2 separate regions of the Homo sapiens genome follow, and region 2 is linked to region 1. The links come from fine-mapping of genetic effects on gene expression. A gene starts in region 1. The other region holds a variant in brackets. All regions are shown on one strand. Distances are from middle to middle.

Region 1 (8,592 bases):
TTCAATAATTTTTTGAAGGGTTTTTTGTGTCTCTATTTCCTTCAGTTCTGCTCTGATTTTAGTTATTTCTTGCCTTCTGCTAACTTTTGAATGTGTTTGCTCTTGCTTTTCTAGTTCTTTTAATTGTGATGTTAGGGTGTCAATTTTGGATCTTTCCTGCTTTCTCTTGTGGGCATTTAGTGCTATAAATTTCCCTCTACACACTGCTTTGAATGCATCCCAGAGATTCTGGTATGTTGTGTCTTTGTTCTCATTGGTTTCAAAGAACATCTTTATTTCTGCCTTCATTTCGTTATGTATGCAGTAGTCATTCAGGAGCAGGTTGTTCAGTTTCCATGTAGTTGAGCGGTTTTGAGTGAGATTCTTAATTCTGAGTTCTAGTTTGATTGCACTGTGGTCTGAGAGATAGTTTGTTATAATTTCTGTTCTTTTGCATTTGCTGAGCAGAGCTTTACTTCCAAGTATGTGGTCAATTTTGGAATAGGTGTGGTGTGGTGCTGAAAAAAATGTATATTCTGTTGATTTTGGGTGGAGAGTTCTGTAGATGTCTATTAGGTCCGCTTGGTGCAGAGCTGAGTTCAATTCCTGGGTATCCTTGTTGACTTTCTGTCTCGTTGATCTGTCTAATGTTGACAGTGGTGTGTTAAAGCCTCCCATTATTAATGTGTGGGAGTCTAAGTGTCTTTGTAGGTCACTCAGGACTTGCTTTATGAATCTGGGTGCTCCTGTATTGGGTGCATATATATTTAGGATAGTTAGCTCTTCTTGTTGAATTGATCCCTTTACCATTATGTAATGGCCTTCTTTGTCTCTTTTGATCTTTGTTGGTTTAAAGTCTGTTTTATCAGAGACTAGGATTGCAACCCCTGCCTTTTTTTGTTTTCCATTTGCTTGGTAGATCTTCCTCCATCCTTTTATTTTGAGCCTATGTGTGTCTCTGCACGTGAGATGGGTTTCCTGAATACAGCACACTGATGGGTCTTGACTCTTTATCCAATTTGCCAGTCTGTGTCTTTTAATTGGAGCATTTAGTCCATTTACATTTAAAGTTAATATGGTTATGTGTGAATTTGATCCTGTCATTATGATGTTAGCTGGTTATTTTGCTCGTTAGTTGATGCAGTTTCTTCCTAGTCTCGATGGTCTTTACATTTTGGCATGATTTTGCAGCGGCTGGTACCGGTTGTTCCTTTCCATGTTTAGCGCTTCCTTCAGGAGCTCTTTTAGGGCAGGCCTGGTGGTGACAAAATCTCTCAGCATTTGCTTGTCTGTAAAGTATTTTATTTCTCCTTCACTTATGAAGCTTAGTTTGGCTGGATATGAAATTCTGGGTTGAAAATTCTTTTCTTTAAGAATGTTGAATATTGGCCCCCACTCTCTTCTGGCTTGTAGGGTTTCTGCCGAGAGATCTGCTGTTAGTCTGATGGGCTTCCCTTTGAGGGTAACCCGACCTTTCTCTCTGGCTGCCCTTAACATTTTTTCCTTCATTTCAACTTTGGTGAATCTGACAATTATGTGTCTTGGAGTTGCTCTTCTTGAGGAGTATCTTTGTGGCATTCTCTGTATTTCCTGAATCTGAACGTTGGCCTGCCTTGCTAGATTGGGGAAGTTCTCCTGGATAATATCCTGCAGAGTGTTTTCCAACTTGGTTCCATTCTCCCTATCACTTTCAGGTACACCAATCAGACGTAGATTTGGTCTTTTCACATAGTCCCATATTTCTTGGAGCCTTTGCTCATTTCTTTTTTTTTTTTTTCTCTAAAATTCCCTTCTTGCTTCATTTCATTCATTTCATCTTCCATCGCTGATATCCTTTCTTCCAGTTGATCGCATCGGCTCCTGAGGCTTCTGCATTCTTCATGTAGTTCTCGAGCCTTGGTTTTCAGCTCCATCAGCTCCTTTAAGCACTTCTCTTTATTGGTTATTCTAGTTATACATTCTTCTAAATTTTTTTCAAAGTTTTCAACTTCTTTGCCTTTGGTTTGAATGTCCTCCCGTAGCTCAGAGTAATTTGATCGTCTGAAGCCTTCTTCTCTCAGCTCGTCAAAGTCATTCTCCATCCAGCTTTGTTCCGTTGCTGGTGAGGAACTGCTTTCCTTTGGAGGAGGAGAAGCGCTCTGCGTTTTAGAGTTTCCCGTTTTTCTGTTCTGTTTTTTCCCCATCTTCATGGTTTTATCTACTTTTGGTCTTTGATGATGGTGATGTACAGATGAGTTTTTCGTGTGGATGTCCTTTCTGTTTGTTAGTTTTCCTTCTAACGGACAGGACCCTCAGCTGCAGGTCTGTTGGAATACCCTGCCGTGTGAGGTGTCAGTGTGCCCCTGCTGGGGGGTGCCTCCCAGTTAGGCTGCTCGGGGGTCAGGGGTCAGGGACCCACTTGAGGAGGCAGTCTGCCCGTTCTCAGATCTCCAGCTGCGTGCTGGGAGAACCACTGCTCTCTTCAAAGCTGTCGGACAGGGACATTTAAGTCTGCAGAGGTTACTGCTGTCCTTTTGTTTGTCTGTGCCCTGCCCCCAGAGGTGGAGCCTACAGAGGCAGGCAGGCCTCCTTGAGCTGTGGTGGGCTCCACCCAGTTCGAGCTTCCCCGCTGCTTTGTTTACCTAAGCAAGCCTGGGCAATGGCGGGTGCCCCTCCCCCAGCCTCGCTGCTGCCTTGCAGTTTGATCTCAGACTGCTGTGCTAGCAATCAGCGAGACTCCGTGGGCGTAGGACCCTCCGAGCCAGGTGCGGGATATAATCTCGTGGTGCGCCGTTTTTTTAAACCGGTCCAAAAAGCGCAATATTCGGGTGGGAGTGACCCAATTTTCCAGGTGAGTCCGTCACCCCTTTCTTTGACTCGGAAAGGGAACTCCCTGACCCCTTGCACTTCCCAAGTGAGGCAATGCCTCGCCCTGCTTCGGCTCGCGCACGGTGCGCGCACCCACTGACCTGCGCCCACTGTCTGGCACTCCCTAGTGAGATGAACCCAGTACCTCAGATGGAAATGCAGAAATCACCTGTCTTCTGCGTCGCTTACGCTGGGAGCTGTAGACCAGAGCTGTTCCTATTCGGCCATCTTGGCTCCTCCACTCCCCTGCTCTCTAAAATATCTTTATAGTTAAATGCAATGTAATATAGAATACAGCAGACACAACAGAAAATAGCATTGTTTAAACAGCATTTTAAATCCTGCTTTGTCCAATCATATTTCTATAATGTCTGTCTTTTAACTTGGCTTCACCATGGTCTCTAAACTCATCCAGGAGGTGGCCCCTGCTTGCACCTCTGCCCTTCTGCCCTCCTGCACCTCTGCCCTTCTGCCCTCCTGCCTTTCAGTTCCTGCAGGCCCCAACTCTCCACTAGCTGGAGGGTCTTGGCTTGCTCCCTCTTCCTGGCATACCCTTCTCTGCTCTTTGTGTGTCTACCATCTTTTGCATCTCAGCTCAAATGTCCCCGTCTCCGGGAGGGCCTCCCTGATGATGTTATCTTAAATAGCACCACCTCCAAATTACTCTTTCTGACGTCACCTTGCCTATATCCTTTATTGCATAAGTTGGTAATTATCATGCTTATTTACTTGCTTTTTCAGATTTTAGCTTTTATATGTTTGTTTGTGTTGTGTCTGTCTCCATGTTAGAAAACAGTGCCACCTCTTCTCCAGGTAACTAGAGAGTCCCAGAGTTCAAGTGTAAAGACTGAGGGCATCATGACCTTCTGCAGGGGGCCTGTAAATGGATCAGAGAAGGGGTATTAGGTTGGTGCAAAAGTAATTGTGGTTTTGGCTGTTACTTTTAATGGCAAAAAACTACAGTTATTTTTGCACCAACCTAATACAAAGGAGGAGAAGTTGTTGGGCTCAATAGTCTCTCTTCTGTTCACTGAGTGGCTCAGGCCTGAGATAAGCAGTATCTAAGGACCCAATAATTAGGGATTCACAATGTTTTTTCAGCCTTCCCCCAATCCATAAATCCGTAACATGTATCCCAATGTGTGATTTTCAGACATTCAAATGAAAATGCTTTTTTAGGAATGCATCCCATGGAAAACTAGGAGTCCACCTATATGGTCTGAAAAATGCCTGCCAGTAGGCCCTTAGAATGGCCTGGGCACAGTATCTTGCTTCCTTTACTTGTCTTTTGTCTTGAGTACACACTGTGCTGCCCCTGCATTCCAAGTCCTGCCATTTCTGTGGGCAGCAGAGAGAACCTAGGAACCTGCTTCTTCTAATAGGAAACATACCTCCCAGACCTTGGCCCCAGCAGACAATGTACTCCCAGTTGAGCAGAAATGTGCATCATTATGTCTTCTAACAAATGTTGCTTTTTAAACTTTTCTCTTTCATTTGAGCACCCCTAAGGAGGGAGCAGGGGGAAGAAAAGCAACAGAAAGGAAGATCATTCATAATAAAAATGATAAGATACACATTTGGGGTTCAGAAGATAAGAGGAACTGGTGTAAATTTACAACAGCAGTTTCTAATTGTAGTCAGATTGCAAAATAGGAATGGATATATGACTCAAAGGGATTAAAAACATAAATAGTAAATAAACATCAATGATGTTCTGCTTAAAAAACATTTAAATATATTCAGACTCAAGTGATTTAGTTCATATCACCATATCCCCAGTAAATTAGAAACCATTAAATGTTGTAGAAATTTATATTTGGCAGAGCTGAGGACAAAATAGCATCATTAAATGATGTAGATACCTTGATGATTAGAGAATTTCCTGGAGAGAATATAGTTCACATAGGAGCCACCAGATTGGCCATGGTCCTTGCTCTGATAGTCGCATGTTTGACAATTTATTCTAAAGAAGTTCTTAGAAGAAAGAAATGCTTATTTGCACTAGGACGTTTATAGCTATTCTATTTGTGTGACAAAACAACAACAAACACAAAACCAACTGGAAGTCATGAAAATGTCCTATAATTGGTAACATAGGTATAATTGCTACATTGATTCAATATTTTGGCATGAAAAATGGTAGGTATATTGACGATATGGACATATGAGAGAGCAGAGAGCATATTTTAAATAACACGAAGTGAAAAAATATAACAGCATTGCACAGCGATTATAATGCTGTGCATATATCTTGAAGAACATAATCATGTAAAAAGTGATTATCAGAAGAGGTTACAAAAGCTTGTACTGGATATTTATGGAGATGGGATCCTTTAGTTTTTTTTTTTTTTTAAATAGAATTGTCTCCCTGTTTGCGTCTCTTTCATTGTAACACTGGATAAATATATTATAATTTAAAACTTTAGCAAATAGAATTTTTAAATAAACTCCATATTGAAGAGCGTGGTGATTTTCCCACTCTCCATAGTCAGAAAGGGTAAGAGTTCTGATGTGCCTTTCTCTGCTGGGCGAGTGTAGTGTAGGAGAGACACTATTCCAATCTATTGCCAATCCTATATGTAGTGAGGCAGCTGCGGAGAGAGAAAGCTGTACCCTGAGATCTTTTCTGCCTTAGTAACCAAACTCTGATTTTTAGCTGAGCGCAGACTCACATGCAGTAAAGACTGTGTTTTCTGACCTGCTTTCCATTCCTGTTCAATTAGGTGACAGAGTTCTGGTTATTAGCGTGTAGCAGATACGTTGTGAGTAGCTTCCAGGAAGTGTCCTTAAAGTGAGAGGGTGGGTGTTCTCTCTTTCTACTTCCAGTTCTCAGATGTGATGGCTGGAGCTCCAACAGCTGTGCTGGCTCATGAGCTAAATGCTAAATGCTGAGGAGAGTAGAGCAACAAGACAAAAATCTGCTCCCTGAGATACCGCGGGACACCGCTTCAGTCCTAGCTGCAGAACTCTAGAAATTTTGCTTAAGTGAATAAAAACCTGTGCGTCCAAAGTACTGTTACTCCCAGCCAAACTGAATCTGAAATAATATAGCCGCCTTTTTCAGCGTACTTATAAGTCTGTATACTTTGTTTCCTAATTTTAAAGAGGAAGAGCATCTTAGAGTTTCCTCTCTAAGTTTTCTCACTGCTTTAACATTTTAAATAATTTAAAGTGGATATCTCCCACTATGGACCAGTGAATGATTAGACCCTTTTGCCCCAAGATTTATCCAGGGTCTTAAAAAATTATTTTTAAAAGTTACTTACTTTTGTTGTTGTTGTTGTTAGAGTCTCACTCTGTCACCCAGGCTGGAGTGCAGTGGCTCCATCTTGGCTCACTGCAACCTCTGACTTCCTGGTTCAAGCAATTCTCCTGCCTCAGCCTCCCAAGTAGCTGAGATTACAGGCACCTGCCACGATGTCCAGCTAATTTTTTTTTTGTATTTTTAGTAGAGATGGGGTTTCATCATGTTGGCCAGGCTGGTTTACAACTCCTGACCTCAAGTGATCTGCCTGCCTTGGCCTCCCAAAGTGCTAGGATTACAGGTGTGAGCCACCCCGCCTGGCCGAAAAGTTACTTACTTCTTGATCCCAAAGTAATAAAAGCTCCTTACCCAAAAAAGATAGAAAATATAGATAGGCAAAAGGAAGAAAATAACTTAGAATACACTTCCCTACATACTCACTGTTAATATTTTTTACTGTTTTTTACATGTATGTTGTACCTACATTTGGTAACCTGCTTTTTCCACCCACTAAATTGTGCATACACTTCCAGATCATTGAATATTCTTCTAAATATCATTTTAAAAGAATGCATTTATTCCATTTCATAGCTAATGTGCCATACTTACCCAATCCCATAGTTTTGGACATTTAAGAAGTTTTTATGTTTTTGTTCTTATAAATAGCACTGTTATGGATTGCTCTTTAGCCTAATATTTGCACATATCATATTTACCCAATAATAAACTTTATAGGTTAAAAGGTAGGCAAAATTATATTGTCACATTATCCTTCAGAAACTTGTACCAATTTATCTCTCTTCCACTCCTCCTTCACTGATAATATAAGAGTATCACATGCCTTGTAACTTTACCAACACTGGATATATCTATCTATTTATTACAGTCTTCAGCTATGTTCCTTAATTTAAAAAATTGTGGTAAAATGTATATAATAAAAGTTATCATATTGACCATTGTCAAGTGTACAATTAGGTGGCTTTAAGCACCTTCACATTGTTATGCAATCATCACCATTATTCATTTCTAGAACTTTTTCATCATCACAAACTGAAACTCTGTACCCATGAGACAAGAGCTCCCTATTTTCCCCCATCGACAGCCCCCGGCACCCACCATTCTATTTTCTGGTCTCTGAATTTGACTACACTAGGTACCTCATAGAAATGGAATCACACAGTATTTTTTTGTGTGTGTGACTGGTTTATTTCACTTAGCATAGTGTTTTCAAGGTTCATCCATGTTGTATCATGTGTCATAATTTCCTTCCTTTTAAAGGCGCTATGTATATATGTATATATATACATACACATTTTATGTATATACCACATTTTTATCCATTCATCTATCAATGGTTACTTGGGTTGGTTCCACCTTTTGGCTACTGTGACTAATGTTCCTATGAACATGGGTGTACAAATACCTCTTCTAGTCCCTGCTGTCAATTTTTTGGGGGGGTATATACCCATAAGTGAAATGCTGAATCTTATGGTAATTCTATGCTTAACTTTTTGAGGAATGGTGCCATACTGTTTTCCATATTGGCTTCACCATTTTACACCCCCACAAATAGTTCACAGAGGTTCCAATTTCTTTACATCCTAGCCACTGCTTATTTTCTGTTTTTTTTGTCTTTTGTTTCCGATGGTAGCCATCCTCATGGACAATATTTAATTGTGGTTTTGATTTGCATTTCCCTAATGATTAGTGATTTTAGCATTTAAAAAAATGTGCTTATAAAAAATATAATATATATTATATATATTTATATATAATATATATTTCTTATAAGCACATTTTTATATAGTTTTATATATAATATAATTATATATAATAATAAGCACATTATATATAATATATAAACATATTTATATATAATATATTATATATAATATATATTTAATATAATATATTATATATAATATATATTTATATATTATATATAACGTATTTATATATAACATATTATATATAACGTATTTATATATAACATATTATATATAACGTATTTATATATAACATATTATATATAATATATAACATATTTATATATAACATATTTATATATAATATATAACATATTTATATATTATATGTAAAATATATATTTTTATAAGCACATTTTTATTATATATAATATATATTTTATATATAATATATATTTTTAAAAATGTGCTCATAAAAATATATATATTTATCTCTATATATGTGTATATACACATATATTTCTATATATGCTTATATATATATATATATATATATATATATATACACATATATACACTTCTAGTTCCTGCCTAATCAAATCAGAGTGTGGTCCTTAGACCAGCAGCATCAGCATCACCTGGAAGCTTGCTAGAAATGCAAATCCTCGGGCCTCACCCCTAGACCTGCTGAATCAGAATTTGCATTTAAGATGCCTGGTAGGTAATTTGTATGCACGCTAAAGTTTGAGAAATACTGCTTTAGAGGTTAATGAAATAGCATTTTTTTCTTTCCTTTTAAGCTTTTCCTCTATTTCC
Region 2 (8,592 bases), 35 kb before region 1:
TTATAAAAATAGTCGAGGAGCCATACTTTTAGGAAAGAACAGGTTCAACTTAAGTTTTGACAATATCGATTAAGCATGTAATAGTCACTGGCTTACAAAACGGAACATTAAGCCCCCAGATTTACATTAACATTTCTTCCTTAAAGGGAACATCAAATGGTTTAGACTTCAGTCAAGATTCTCTACAGCCCCAGTTCATAGCCAAGTGGCCTCAAAGCCTCAGATAGTTAAACCACTTCCTCCAAAAGTCTGTGAGTCCCTTCATCTGAATACAGGGTACCCATGGAGCAGGGACTGGGGAAGAAGACAGTACATAGGGTGGAAAGTATTGCAGTTGCTTGGGTGGTGAGAAAGGAAGTAGGCGTCCCAAGACTACCTTGAAGCAGGCAAGAGGCAGTCTGCAGTGGTCTTCCAAATGCTAACTCTAGACCGTTTTATCCACGTCCCCAGGTATTTACTTCAATAAAAGGGTAAAACAACATCACTGGGCAGACAGGATTTCATTTCAAAAGACTTCAGTACAGTGCCCTCTTAGACTTGAGAGAAGAAGCCATTCAGGCTGCCTCCCTCTTATCAAATAACAATTTAATTCTGATTCAGAAACAAAATTCTTGTGACCCCCACACCAATCTACTCTACCCCAGCTCTTAGTACTTGTTCCCAAAAGGACAGGGGAAAGAACGAGGGGATGGGGAGGCTACCTTAAAAGTAAAGCAACTCTTAAGACTGCTGGGATAACTGTTCCCTTAAATCTAAGAAACACTGCAGCTGCCAGTCAACACTACCGGTCTCTGAACACAGCAAAATGCCGACACCTGCCACCCGGCATCCGGGGGTTCTTTTATTTTTTGGTAAATGTGGCAGGAAAGACTCAGAGAGATCAACTGCTTCATGGGAAAGAAAGGGAAGCCCCAGGGAAGAGAGACAAGAAGCATCGTGCCTATCCTAGGGTACTTTGTGTGTCTCCTCTCTATGCACTGAAAGGGCTCTTTGTGTCACACTCACACTCACACACCCGGCGAGTCTGTGTGATTTATTGGGGGAAGGAGGGGCAAGAAGGGTGATTTTATTATCCCTCTTCCCAGTGAGTCCCAGCACATCTCTGCTGGGCCCAAGCTCGGTGGCCTCCTTCTGGCCCAGTCCCCTCCGCCTGTGGCCGCAGAGATAACAGAGGGGAGGAGCCCAAACAAAAACAGCCATGGATCTAGGGAAGTAGAGAGGAAATCCAGCGAGGGAGCCGGAAAGGAAGGAGAAAAGAGCTGGAGGGAGCAGAGGGGTGGGGGACAGAGGAAGAGGAGGGAAGGCTCCAGCACAGGGGAAAGGGGAAGGGTGGGTGGGTGGTGGCACAGGAAGAGTGAAGGGGAGGATGGGGGAAGTGCAAGGGAGGTGCCAGAAATAGGCAGGAGGATGGGTTGGAGAAGGCGACCGCCGCCGAGGGAGGAGGCCGAGAGGTGGAGGAGTGGGGCAGGGGTTGGGTGGGGAGGGAAGCAGCACGGGGCATCAATTATTAAGTGATTACATCATCCCTGACATTAAAACAACACACACAGCCCCAGTCCCCGCGGGGGGCCCCAAAAGGAGGGCGGGGGCGGAGTCTGGGCCAGCCTCGCCCCCAAGCCAATTCCCATTTTCACCCGGCGCCCGCTTGCGGGCGAGGAAATGGGGTCCCCATCCCCGCGCTGCCTCGGGGCCGCACCCCGCAGGGGTGTCCTCCGGTGCAACCGCGGGAAGACCCCAAGCACCGACTCCCCGGCAGCCCCGCGGAGCGCCCTGGCGGCCAAGGGACCGCAGCACCGGGCCCTGCGGCGGGGGCGGCGTGCGCGGGGGCGCCGGCGGCCGGGCTTCTCCGCAGCATCCCCGAGGCCTCCCGCGACGCATCCCCGCCGCCTGCTTACCTGCGCGGCGCTGAGGCTCCGGAGCCCACTCACATGGTCCTCTCCCCGCCCTCCTCCGGCGCGGCCGAGGCGGCTCCGGGGGGTCCCCGGCGGGCCCGGGAGCCGGTGGGCCTTCCGAGAGCACCGAGGGGGCGGCGCCGGGGTGTCCCCGGCCCGGCGGCCGAATCCCTCCCTGGCGCGGGCGGCGGCCGCCGGGCGGTGCGGCGCGGGCGGCGGCTTTGTGTGCGCCCGGGCGGTCCTCGGTGCGCTGGGAGAAGCGCGGCGCGCCCGGGCGGGAGAGGACGCGCCGCTCGCACAACAACCTCGCCTCTACTCTCGCCGCCGGGCGGCGGGCGGGTCTCGAAGGCCTTCGGCTCGCGGCGACCCCTCCTCCTCGCCCGCGGCAGCCCCCTCCTCGCCGGCTCCGCTCCTGACAGATGGCGCAACTGCAACGACGCGCCGCCGCCACCAGCGCGGCTGCTCGCTGCTACTCTTGCTGATGCTCTGCCCCTCCAGCTCCGGAGGGGAGCGAGGAGGGGGCGGGGCGCGCCTCGAGAGTGACAGGCCCGGCTGCCCTATCAAAGAGCCCCTTGGGAGCTGCGAGCCGCAACCATTGGCGCCTGGGGCGTGGGCGGGACGGCAGTAGGTGGGGCCGCCGAGTGGGTTGAGCGTTACTGTGGCAGCGGGCATCCCAGGGTGCGTGCGGTGCAGGGTGTGCAAGAAAATGCGAGGTTGGAGGAGGAGGTCTGTGTGTTTTTAAGGATTGTGTGGAGTTGTGAGGTGGCGGAGTAGGGCGGGAGAAAGAGCGGAGAGTGTGAACTGCAGTTTCCGCTTTGCGGAAGGTTGCAGCTGCTGCTGCAGATTGGCACCTGCCATTCCCCCAAAACCATGGGAAACTGCCTCGAGACAGGGCTATCTTGCCTTTCTGGTGTCTTTTCATTTGAGGGTGAGAGGATGAAATGGAAAATTGGGCGGTGATAGCAGCGTTTTCTTTGATCAAACTGAAAAGAGTACGGAGCAAAGTAGAATCCTGTCCTGAAACGTGGAAACGCACAACAAATAACAATGAGGAGGAGAAGGAGATTAGGATCATTTTATCAGTCCCCTATTTCTGCGGACACTCATTTATATTTTTTTTCTAGCAAAAGTCTGGAGGAAGTATTACTGAAATAGGGGGAGGGGCCAAGCGGCGACTAAGGAACCTGAAATGACAGAGATTTGTTCGTACATTCCCCGCCCCACCCCCAAAAAACCTCGTTTAATTGTAGTCATTGGTTGTCTTTGGTTTCTCATAACATTCAAACTTCTCATGTTTTTTTCCCCTTCACTGAATCTGAGCTTTTGCTCATATTTCCCTTGATGAAATAATTGCCGGTTTAGTATACAGTTGGGAGTGCATCGGTCTTTATTTCCTATCCAGCTTTTCTATGGCAGGATGTAACTTCATAAAAAGAAACACTTTGGCTTCCTGATTTTCTTTATAGGTAATTCCTGTTTACTGAAAGTTCTGCTTTAAGGCATACTCAGAATCGCTCTCCTTAATGATTTTGGCAAGAACCCTACCTTCCCCCTCAGCAAATCTAATGTTCTAAGAAATTATAAGTGAATCAGCTTCTGCTTCTGTGCTCAAAATCTATAATATTGCCTTTCCGGCCCACTACTTGTTTTTACTGTAGTTTAAAAAAATCTGTCCCTTTTGCTGACTTTTTTCTTTTTGTACACACTACTTTTTAAGAAAAGTTGCTAACATTTATTAAATGATCTGCATCCTATGGAGGAGGAAACTGAGGAAAAGAAAAGTTAAGTAACTAACTCAAGGTGACAGTATACAGAGGTTACTGGATTTTTTTCCTTTTCCTTAAACAAAATGACAAATTAAACCATGTTTAAATTGTGTCTGGAAATTCCATAATCCCAAGAAATGGAACCATAGCTAGGACTAGGATATTTCCATACAAGAGAAAGCCAGCTTCATTTAGCCAAGAATTGCTTATCTCAAGAGCAGAGGCTCTTCGTCCTCAGGGCTAGTCCGCAATGGCTGCTCTGGGTTTATTTGGATTGGGATGCAGAGGCAGTTG[G/T]GTAGAGCAATGGTTCTCAAACTTTGACATGTATCAGAAATAACTGAAGGGGCTTGCTTAAACATGAATTGCTGTGTTTAACCACCTGAGGTTCTGATTTAGGGGGTTTGGGATGGTGCCCAAGAATTTGCACATTTAGCAAGTTCCCAGGTGATGTTGATACAGCCAATCTGGAGACAGCACCTTGAGGACCATAGTTCTAGAATTGGGCTGTCCGAGGAGGTAGCCACTAGCCACATGACTGTTAAGTACTTGAAATGTACTTCAGTATTGGAAATTTGGCTACTGCAAATTAGGATGTGCTGTAAATGTAAAAGATGTATTAGATATTTCAGATCAAGCATGAAAAATGGAATGTAAAGTATCCCATTTTAATATTGATTACATGTTAAAATGATAGTCTAAATGTACTGTGCTAAATAAAACATTATTAGAGTTAATTAAATTGTTTCTTTTATTTTTTAAATGCGTCTACTAGAAAATTTTAAATAACCTATGTGGCTCAAGTTATATCTCTATCGGGCAGCACTGGTCTGGAGTTGTTTCTGATTCCAGCTCCACAGTTCACTGTTGGGAGCGCTTTGATGAAGCAAGTCGCTTATCCTTTTTGAACCTTAGTGTCCTCATACGTAAAATGGGAAAAATAGTAAAACTGTTCTCAAACTATTCCGGACAGACTAAGTGTCATATGCTCTCAAGAAAAAAACACTCTTAGGCTATATATCTCCTTGAAATCTCATGTTTAGTTCAATCTATCTTACGCTAAATCTGGAAATCTGGAGTAGGTGGGATAAGTCCTCTCTCTCTCTCTCTCTCTCTCTCTCCCTCTCTCCTCCTCTCTCTCTGTTTCTTCACGAGAAGTCACTTCTTAGTGTCTGCAACTGTAATAGCTTCTTGATCTAATTAGTGGACAAAGAGACAATGTGATTAAAATGACAGATTAACCTGCTCCCATCAAGACTTCATCCTGTTTTTTGTAATTCTTTGCTTACCTACTTTTTTATCTGTTGCCCGTCTTAAATGTAGCTTTAAATGGATTTGGACTCCTCAGGAGGATTTGCTAATGGTCTGAACAAGTGAATAGAGCACTGCAAAAGATTTGTATACTATTCCCGTTTTGATCTTTTCTGCCAATCTCTACCAAGAACTTGATTAAAGATCTGAGACGCTGTCCCTGGCCTACCCAAGGTAAGTAATATTGTCTTCCACAACCACCAGTTTTGTTTTCTTATGAGTAGCTTCTATTATACAAATTAGAATGTAGTCATTGTTCTAGAACTTCTCTTTGATTTTATTGATATTGTTTATATATTTTGTATTTTTCTACTTGTTTTACCTTAAAGTTTCCTCTTTCTATTCTGGCTTTCTTGAACTTGTCTCATCTGAATCTTATATCTTGCTTTTAAAGTAACTTTTTTTTCTTATTTTTATTAGCTAAAACATTTTCTTGTCTTATTATTTTATTTTAGTTTTAATCTTCTCTTAAATGTCAACTCAACAACAACACATATGGCAAGGGTAAAAACCCTCAATGTAGAGTTTTTACAAATCAACAAGAAAATAAAGATGAACGTTCGAACTGAAAAATATGTGCAACAGAAACAAAACCCAAAATGGCCAGTAAATGTGATAGGAGGTTCAACAGGAAAATGGATATCCATACCCTACTAGTGGAATTTTTAATTGGTACAACATTGCTGGAAGGCAGTTTAATAGCATTTGTGAAAAGCCTTTTAAAAAAATGTATACATTTGACTTAGCAATTTTACTTCTGGGAAAGAATGGAACAAATTTGCAAATACACAAACACAAGCGCACATATCATGGGAATAATTGGAACATTGTTTATAATAGTGAAACACTGAGAAAAGTTCATTGATAAGGGATTTGGTGTGTAAATTATGTTATATCTATAATAGAATACTATATAGCCATAAAATTATAACATTGCCATTTATTTATTTATTTGTGTGGAAAGATGTTCACAACAAATTAAAATTAAGAAGAGCTAATAAATTAGTATTGTGTTTGTATGTGTACATATGTATGTTTATATATATGTATTAATACACATATATTTCCATTATTTTTAAACTTATTTATATGTGTAAATTTTCATAGAAAGCAATACATACACAAAAATTTTAATGATCATTTCCTCCAAGTAATCATATTTTAGGTCATTGTTATTTTATTTTTTATCTTTTTCTTAATTTCCTCAACTTTTTACATTGGGCATTTATTATGTTATTAGAAAAAACAATAAAAACTTATTTTAAACTTGTACCTTTTTTTGCTACTTTAATTCTCGTTTTTCTTCCTCTGCCTCCTGTCTGCTGTTTTTCCTCCCTTTTGAAGGCATATTGCCCCAGGGTAGTGTTCAGGAATCAAGACCAGGACCAGAGGGAGGCCTTCTGCTTCCATCCACCCACAGACACCCTTCTTGTTTCTGGTGGGTCTTCTGGGACTTGCAGGAATGATTCTTATAAAACTTCACTTTGAGGCTAGGCATGATAGCTCGTGCCTGTAATCCCCGTGCTTTGGGAGGCTGAGGCCAGAGGACTGCTTGAGCCCAGGAGTTTGAGACCAACCTGGACAGCACAGCAAGACCCCATCTCTACAAAAAAAATAAATGCCAGGTGTGGTGGTGTACACCTGCCGTCTCATCTACTTGGGAGGCTGAGATGGGAAGATTGCTTGAGCCTGGGAGGTCAAAGCTGCAGTGAGCTCTAATTGCACTGCTGTAACAGAGTGAGACCCTGTCTCAAAACAAAACAAAATGAAAAAAACAAGCAAAAAAACCCCTTCACTCTTAGAGTGGGACACCACTGCTAAAGTGGCCCCAGGGCTAACCTGTCTGTACTTGGCATACCTGGTTCACTGTTTACCTCTTTCTTCTGATGCCTCATATCAAGTCCATACATAAAGAGTTACATATTTTTATATACACAATCTTTAGAACACAGCCAATGGATTTAGGGCATTTTGGGTCCACAGCTTGCCATGAGCCAGCAGGAGATGGTCCTGGAAAAATCTCATGTGGGAAGGACATTCCATACAACACCCCAGCCTGAACTCAGAAAGGAGCGTAGGTGATGTTAAACCTGCCTCTGGAAGGAAGATACCTGTGGCTCTTCTGAAGTTGAGATTCTGGCCCTACTTTTCTACCATTGTCTCTCTTGTTAAATTGTGTCCATACTGGACAGCTGGTCCTCCTGACAGGCCACAGCAGAGCCCTCTTGGCATTTGGCTTTCCAGTTCCCTTTTCTCTTAAAAAGATGGAGGGTGGACTGACTAGATAGGAGTTATTATGAACATGGTTTTAGAACCCAGGTGCACTGAACCTCTTTTGGATGCTCTCAACATGTCAGGGTCAGTACTGGGCAAGCCAGGCATGCTGGGGAGGAAGAGAGGCCTATATCCTAAACAGACCACAGGGAGGGTGAATGGGATGGCACTGACTGAAAATGCGCTTCTTTAATTCTTTGCCCGACTCCCCAAAGGTGGCTTGGATTATTAGCTTGTGAAGTTCAAGTGCCTGAGAATGGGTCTTAGTCAACCTTGGGGTTCTAGATGGAAACCCTTCTAATTTCATAGAGTTATCTCCCAACACACCTCCTGCAGGGACCCCATAGGAGCCTAACAAAGGAGGCTGTTCTGTCATAAGATGGCCTGTCCCTTTCTTCTGCATACTAACCAGCCATACCTTTCACTCTGGCCCTTTCTTGACTCCTCACTGTCTGCTATTTCCAAGCTCTACTCAGTGCAGTGATGGTATTTAAGACTCCTCCAGGGTGGTGGAGCCAATAGAACACCCCACACTAGTACAGAAAACTGGATCAGAAACCTTTGGACTCCCCTGTTTGCAGGAACAGGTTGATTAGGCCTGATCTTCTTTAGGTGAGCTGACCCTGACTTGACACTCCACGGGAGACCCTCAAGAGTGACACTGTGAGGCTAGCAGATGCTTTTCATTTTGTTTTTATCTGATAGAGCTCCTAGAGTGTGCCCTCAATGATTCAGTTATTTTCCTGGTCATAGCTTCTTGTAGTCCTAAAGAAAAAGAGATAATGCCTCAGCTTTCTAATTAGTTTAGTGATCTACATCTGTGTGAAATGTGGACTTTATGACATTTATCTTGCTACTTTCAAGAATTCAAATATTCTGTCTGTCAAGTTGTCAAGGGAAAAAATGAACTGAAGGAGGAGGAAATTATTGTATCAGTCAAGGTTCTTGGTTGCAAGCATCGAAAACCTACTATGTCTGACTGGGCACCGTGGCTCACACCTGTAATCCCAGCACTTTTGGAGGATGAGGCAGGGGGATTGCTTGAGCCCGGGAGTTCGAGACCAGCCTGAGCAATATCATGAACCTCCATCTCTATAAAAAATACATAATTAGCCAGACAAGATGGCGTGAGCCTGTAGTCCCAGCTACATGGGAGGCTGAGGTGGGAGGATCACCTAAGCCTGGGAGGTTGAGGCTGCAGTGACCTGCAGTCCAGCCTAGGCGACATGATAAGACCCTGTTTCAAAAACAAAACAAAATGACAACAACAACAAAACACAAAAACCAACACAAAGAAAACCCTACTATGTCTAATTTAAGCAGAATAGGAATTTTTTTAGGAAGCTATTGGT

Direction of the effects. Alleles are on the strand shown, and positions count from the first base shown. SD is a standard deviation of normalised expression in the study named.
For the expression in macrophages of the gene that starts at base 3,443 in region 1, G is the low allele of the variant in region 2 and T is the other (large effect, 1.0 SD a copy in Alasoo 2018).

The links. PIP is the estimated chance that this variant, and not a neighbour inherited with it, causes the effect.
Region 2: its variant is fine-mapped to the expression of LINC02527 in macrophages (Alasoo 2018, PIP 0.95).

Annotation. Positions count from the first base shown.
Region 1 is chr6:111,905,955-111,914,546 of GRCh38, forward strand. LINC02527 (long intergenic non-protein coding RNA 2527) reads right to left here and starts at 3,443. Exons shown (of 3, transcript NR_149099.1): 1 at 2,972-3,443. RefSeq lists an enhancer at 2,154-2,840.
Region 2 is chr6:111,871,073-111,879,664 of GRCh38, forward strand. It overlaps FYN (FYN proto-oncogene, Src family tyrosine kinase), which reads right to left and starts at 2,380. Exons shown (of 14, transcript NM_002037.5): 1 at 1,896-2,380. LOC102724646 (a long non-coding RNA gene) reads left to right here and starts at 2,380. Exons shown (of 3, transcript NR_168402.1): 1 at 2,380-2,618; 2 at 4,979-5,140; 3 at 5,422-6,238. RefSeq lists silencers at 1,500-1,899, 2,050-2,299, 2,420-2,509 and an enhancer at 1,952-2,451. The variant G/T (reference allele first, on the strand shown) is at 3,953.